Homo sapiens: one gene and its partner. The protein of the gene in region 1 purifies or fractionates together with the protein of each later gene. This does not show direct contact. Each region holds a gene or a part of one and is shown on either strand. Other genes may lie near its edges.

Evidence for each region.
Region 2: the proteins of PTDSS2 (region 1) and HTR2C purify together in Homo sapiens (co-immunoprecipitation; one large-scale study listed by IntAct). This does not show direct contact.

What each region holds. Positions count from the first base shown.
Region 1 is NC_000011.10:453,279-456,778, forward strand, and holds part of PTDSS2 (phosphatidylserine synthase 2), read left to right. Parts: intron 1-3,500. UniProt on the Homo sapiens protein: Catalyzes a base-exchange reaction in which the polar head group of phosphatidylethanolamine (PE) or phosphatidylcholine (PC) is replaced by L-serine. Catalyzes the conversion of phosphatatidylethanolamine and does not act on phosphatidylcholine.
Region 2 is NC_000023.11:114,587,086-114,590,585, reverse strand, and holds part of HTR2C (5-hydroxytryptamine receptor 2C isoform a precursor), read right to left. Parts: intron 997-3,500; exon of another isoform or gene 601-996; intron 1-600. UniProt on the Homo sapiens protein: G-protein coupled receptor for 5-hydroxytryptamine (serotonin).

The DNA.
Region 1 (3,500 bases):
GAAGATGTGGCAGCTCATGCGGTCTGGAAATTGTTTGGGAGAACACTTGGGGACCCCTTACCCTGGCGAGGTGCCTGTGAACGTTGCCGCCTGTCTGTGGGAGACGCTGAAGCAGCTTCGGATGACCACACTTGCTAACCAGTTCCCGAGCTGGGGGCCACTGTGATGTTCTGAGAGTTTTTATTGTATGCTTGTGTCTTGGAATGGGGTGCCTCAAATGAGCCTTCTCAGTGACCTGAGGACTTTATGTGTGAGGTGACCTCTGACCTTCAGATACCCCAGGTTTCTGGAAGATGCCTTTCTCCATCATCCTGGATCGGGGCTTTCCCAGCTTTGCCTACACCTGGGAGGCGCGAGTAGCCAGATGAAGTCTTTCTGGTCTTGCTGGTCAGAGCCAGAAGGGCCAGTGCCCGGTCCAGGAGCCTCTCGCAGGCCTTGGGCTGCCCATCCAGGCGTGGCCTTTCCTTGGCCCTTTGGACGACGACGCCGCGTTTTCCTCTTGGTCTCGGCCTCCCTGCCCACCATGAGAGTGGACATGAGAGTGACCATCTCCAAGGAGGCAGCTGGGTCTTTTCCACTCCCCATGGCAGGGAGCCAGCTGTCTTCACGCCCTCACCCTAGTGAAGTGGCTGAATTGCCAGGATTGATCACAGCTCTGTTCTGTGTCTGATCACAGGACATACACCGTCCTGCAGAGTCTGCAGGCGGGTGGGAGGAGCCATTGAACAGACCTGGCGTCCTGGGAGGGACACGGAATTCTTCCCTTGAGAGTCTCATGCTATCTTGAGCGGCACTCTGTCACTTCCAAGATGTGTAGACGTCGTGCTGCGTGTAGGACAAGGACTGGAGCTCACTAATACGGACCTTACTTTCCAGGAGCGTTGGATTTGAGCAGCTCTGAGATGTGTCCTCCTGCAGGGCTGCTGTGCCTGGTGCCCTTTCTCTGGGTCCCTTACCCTCTGCCTCCCTTCCTGTTGGGTCCTCTTCATTCCCATTTCTGCTTCCCCAGGGCCAGGAGGGTGCTGGGCACTCGGTGGCCACCTCAATGACAGTGTGCACATTTACCTGAAGGGGCGAAGGGTTACCTTTATATTTCAGGTAATCTCTGTGTTTTGGGGAAATGGAAAGATGGTGTTGGGTTAGGGTTGATCAATGATCAGCGTTTCCCTGGGCTACACAAGGAGTGAGTGTTGGGTTGGTGGCCACTTTAGAAACCACAGGAAGGTCTCTGTCGTGGAAAGTCGTATTAAAGGAGTCAAGTTTTACGCCTGTAATCCCAGCACTTTGGGAGGCCGAGGCAGGTGGATCACGAGGTCAGGAGTTTAAGACCAGCCTGGCCAATATGGTGAAACCCGGTCTCTACTAAAAATACAAAAATTAGCTGGGTGTGGTGGCGGGCGCCTGTAATCCCAGCTGCTTGGGAGGCTGAGGCAGGAGAATCGCTTGAACCTGGGAGGCAGAGATCGCGCCAGTGTCCTCCAGCCTGGGTGACAGAGCAAGACTCCATCTCAAAAAGAAAAAAAGAAGTCAAGTTTCAATTTTAACTTGTGTTAGTGTGTGATCCTGTCTTTGTGTGCTGTGGAACTTGGTGCTGGTGGGACACAGGCTGCTCACCCCATCCCTTGAGCTTTGCGTTTATTCCTGGGATTCTGCATGTGAATGGGAGCCTGTGCTGTATCTGGGAGATGCTGACTGGGTTGCAGGCACGTCCGAGGGTCAGGGTGGGGCCGAGTGCAGCCTCCTCCTCCAGTGGGCCTGTGTGTGGAGTGGTGGCATTCTGGGTGTCCCTGAGGCCTGGTCGTTTCCATCTTCTTCCTGAGCCCACATGGAGATGACGAGGGGTTTCCTGCTGGTCTCTTGCAGAACAGGGTTGAGTGGTGTCCTCACGTTGATCTAGCTTCTGGGTCTCCCATTCTGCATGTGAGCAGGTTGATGGGCTGTTGTCTCTTCCACGGTTAGCCTCCCTTAGGCTGGGGCTCCTTCACCCCTCTTTTCTTAGAGACATTACTGCCCAGAGTGAGAACCCCTCACGTGGGGTGGCCGTGTGGTTCCAAGACAGGGTCCTGTGGAGGCCCTGTTAGCTTCCCCACTGGAGGCCTCCCTCACAGCAGGCTCCTGTCCCGGCATCTGCACTCCAGCCAGGCAGAGTCCTGCTCCCGTGCACACCACACCCTGTCTGTCTGTGCTGTGGGCCCTTGGCGGGGTTCTGGGTGTCTGGAGCCCCTTGACCTTGTTCCTCCTACAAGGTGACCTCGTCAGGAAGCCCCAGGATGAGACTGTCCCTGGCTCCTCCAAAGGTCACTTCAGACATGTGCACCCTTTGGAGAGGTCCCTGCTGTTTCTCAGAACTGCTGGGGATGGAGGCTGAGCCCGAGAGTGCTTGCTCCTCGCGCTCCCTTCTTGCTATGGTCTCCGGAGATGCCTCCCAGGCCACGAGCCCTCCTGGCGTGGTTTTACTGGGACCTGGCTTTGCAACAAAAATAGTTGTTTTAACCTCCCTAACCACTCCCATCCCTCTTTTGTTTTTCTCTATAACGTGTAGGGTTTCTTAGCTCTCCTGTATTGGTCTCACTCCACTGGAAGGAAGGCTCAGGAACGCAGGCTGTGTCTTCTCCCGGGTGTGGCTGGGGCGGGGGCTCAGGGAATGGCTGTGATGGCCCAGTGTCCAGGAGGCTCCGGGCCCCACCCCCCGCCTTGCTGCATGACCTTCACAGTGTCACTTACCGGCCCTGACTTGCCTGCGGGCACCACGCACACGGCATGAAGGTGCCCTGGCCCGGGGCACGGACACAGCCAGAGCCACCGCGCTCCTGGCTGTCATCACGTCGTTGGCTTTGCGATCTAAACCTGCTTGTTGTTTTGGTTTTTCTTTCTTTCTGTTTTCTTTCATTCTTTTTTTTTTTTTTTTTTTTGAGACAGAATCTCACTCTGTCACCCAGGCTGGAGTGCAGGGATGTGATCTCAGCTTACTGCGGTCCCCGACTCCTGGGCCGAAGTAATCTCCCCTCACCCTCCCTCTTCCCAAGTAGCTGGGACCAGACATGCGCCACCACATCCAGTTAATTTTTTTTTTTTTTTGGTAGAAATAGGGTCTCACTATGTTTCCCGAGCTGGTCTCCAACTCCTGGGCTCAAGTGATCCTCCTGCCTCAGCCTCCCAAAGCTCTGGAATTACAGGTGTGAGCCACGGTACCTGCCCCCAAACACTCCTGACTCTTCTTATCCTAACCGGGGTCATCTTACTCTCCTCACCGAAATCTGATGTCACCTGTATGGAGGAAAGGGTGGGCCTCATGGAGGGGCAGGCCAGGGACAAGGGGACTCCTGGGCCCCAGCTGAGCCCAGCCCGTTTCCCCTCAAGGGCTGTCTCCAGGAGGACACGTTCTGTAAGTGTAGTGTTCAGCAGAGGGTGAGTTTCTGGGTCGCCGAATCCAGGCACCCTTAGGAATGGGGGCCTAAGAGGGCCTTCTGACGTGGGTTCTCTGCTGTGATTGTGGGCAG
Region 2 (3,500 bases), on another chromosome or scaffold:
ATCTTCTTTCACCTTTACTTTAACCATTGGAATACAATACAATCAATCAAGATATGTTAACTGATTACCTACTATGGGCAAGGCACTTATCATATATGTGGGCTAGTCAACAAAAGCTTCCTGCAAGAGGTGGGGCTTGAAACGGACCTTGAAGATCAGACAGAATATAGATACATTTGGGAGAGAAAGCTACATACCACAGTACTGGACTTCTCCAATCTTTCTAGCAATAAATTCTTTTTTAATCACGGATCAGGTTTTTTGTCAATTTAAAATGGAAGTAAGAAATGGAAGTAATTGGTTTGGTTTTTGAATTTTTAAAAACCTACTTTTAAAAAGACTTTAATCATATTTAGAATTTTTCCAAGTATGGTCTTTCTACCCTGAAATAACTTTAGTCTAAGTATTGTACTCAGATATGGTTTTTCTACCTGGGCTCAGATCAGTAAACTAAAAAACTGGCAGTTACTTTTTATAGCACCTATTTTCCAAGTCATAGCTATCAAATTACTTTTCCTGACTCTAGTATGAAAAGGAAATACATGGCAAATGGGATCAGACAAGACTTGAAACCTTCCTGATATATGATAAATAATTTTTAACACAAACTCAAGATTTTATTGTCTTCATAATAAAACAAAAGATGACACTTAGAAATGGATCACTTGGACCTTTCTCTTCTTATCTCTTCCCAGTTCAAAATGCTTGCATCTTTTAATGGCAGCATTCTCTTAGATTTGCAGTTGGGATCAGTGCACTCAAGCCTTAGCACAATATTCTTTGTAGTTTTAGCTTTTTTCCGAAAAATTGGCTTAGTCTGCCCACCATATTCACTGCGCTGCCTGTCATAATGCTGCTTTCCCTGGGCATACAGAGAATCTTTGCCCTTCTTGTACTGTGTCGTTTTGTGGGGTTGGTGCTAGCCACACTTCTTTAAGTCTTGTGAGTTTTAGGAACATTCACCATGTTTTCGGGAGCACTATCGGTACGGAAAGAGATAAACGATTTTTACTGATCCTTCTGTCAGTCGGTCTTAGACCTTCAGAGCTTCTATTTTACTGCTTGAATTTCAAGTAGGCAATATTATATAAATGACAAATATGAATGGCCTTTGTTGTGGTGTTACATGTAGTAGAAACCTGTGGGTCCAACTCACAGTAGTAACATCTGCCTGTCCAGTCATCTCTACATACAATAGCATTATTTCCCTGACTTCATTTCTGTCTTTGTATTATCTCTGTAACTCCCCTGAGCTTCACTCAGCTTCTTGTCCCTCAGTCTCTCAGCATTAACAGTACATTCTCATTTGCTCTACTTCTTTATTGGTAGGTGAATCTCTAGATGAAATGTTGCATGTCTGTCTCATTGCCTTGCCAAGCAGCATATCGAGGATTAATGGACATTGTCCATTAATATCCTCACATTTACATGCAAATTTGTTCTGTTAAAAGACTAGTTGTTACAGTATGAAAGAAAAATTAGCCAATTTCTAAACAGAGGCAATAGTTTGTTGTTTAACACCACGGCCTCTGGAATAAAACTGCCTGGTTTCAAGCTTGGTTTTGTTCATTCAGTTTGAACAGATTAACCTCTTTGTATGCCTCAGTTTCCCTAACTGCAAACTGGATAATAGTAGTACCTTCTCATGGGGTAGTCATCAGGCTTGTATGGTTATATACCTGTAAACCTCTTAGAACTGTGTAGTGCATGGTAAATGTCAATAAATAGTGGCCACTGTTACCATCTTTTATACCTCTCCTCTTAAGAATAATTACTTGCTAATTTGGGCAAGTCTTACTACTTTGATTACAGGAAGCTATAATTGAAGAGTATTCAGTGAGTCTTGATTACTGAGATAAAATGGGAGATACGTAAGTTTAAAATACACTTGCAAAAGATTTGAACACTGACATTTATTCGTAAGCGTTTACTGATTAGTTTAAAGAAGACATCATGTTTTATGAAAAAGTAAAGGAAATCCTAGCCAATTCATTCATTGCTATCCTTGTCTAGATATTAGTTGACATTATCTTTGGTTTCAGTGGTGTTCAGTTTTCACTTTTTATTTTTACATTGAGCTCAACCCCACACCTTGCCATTAACGCTAATTCAACTCTGAATTTAAATACCCATATATGGTGGCTGTTGCACTGGACAATGCAGTTCTAAAGGCTTTCTAATAGCTTTCAATAAATTTATGCATAGTTCTTAATAGGTAATAATAACAGTATGTTACCCAAAGGTGTACTTGTATTTAAAGGAGACAGTGACTAAGATGAAAGAGGGAAATTCCTGAATGTAGAATTTCAAGTTATATGGAAAACCATGAAGGCTACTAATTTAGGGACCAGAAGGCCTTTCGAGTGCTTCTCAAATTAGACCATGTAAGTGGTCATCTATGCATAAGGTTAACCATAATTAAGAAGAATGACTGTTTCAAATGCCAGCTATATGTACAATGCTATAATACGCAACTATTTTAGGAAACTGCAGATGACACTGTCTTAGCCACAGCTGAGAAGAGGAATGAATAGCGAGGTTGAAGTAGAGATGCCAGGTAGGAGACAAAAACAGAATTAAAATTCCATCTTGTGTATATCTTATTTGAAATCCTGATTTCACTATGTCGTTTGTGCATTAAAATGTCAGAAGTGATTAGCAAAGAGTTGTTGCAGGTGAGCATTAGTATTAAATCTGCTAATGACTTGCCAAATGATGATGCAGCTTAACCACTTGGTTGTTTTCAATGTTGTTTGTCTAGAATGGAGATGACTAGACTGTCTTGCAGCAATGTTCTCAGTATATGAAAAAGCCTTCTTAAAATGTCTTGAAGAATGGCAGTGTTGGAGAGATCCATAACTTGAGCACACATTAGACTGGAGATTGATGATTTCTTTTTGAGGTTCAACAGTACAATATGTAGATGAAATGACATAGGTAGCCTAGAATGCTAACAAATAAATAATAAATGTTGCTTAGTGCAATAATTTAAAATTTTCAAAGTGCTTAATACCCATCTGTTTCACAACAATCAGGTGGGGTTATATATGATACTGACATAAAATATCACAATAATATATTATTAACTTCAATTTATGATGAAGTTTTCCTAGTTTGCTCATGGCTACCAGGCAGCTAGAGGAACATAATTTAGCAGTTCTTCCACTAGACAATACTAAGCTGTATCAGATGCTTTACTAAAATAATCTCAGTACACGTACATCATCCTTTTGTGAGGTATTCCATTGCTATGAAAGTGAGGTGGTAAGATGCTCCTTAATAATACTGGACAAATAGTCTGGAGCTTCAGGAGCCATTAAAACCTGGGAATTAATTTATCTTTCAGCAGGCTCAGCAAACTGCAACCTCCTTCAATCTCAGGCCTTGAACAATTTAATAAGAATAGCTGAGGATATTTAATGTTGGTTACTATAATCTCTCCCCCAAATTTTGTTTTAATTTTTGTGTTTCCCTTAGCTGGAGAGGGATGACGTTTCCTT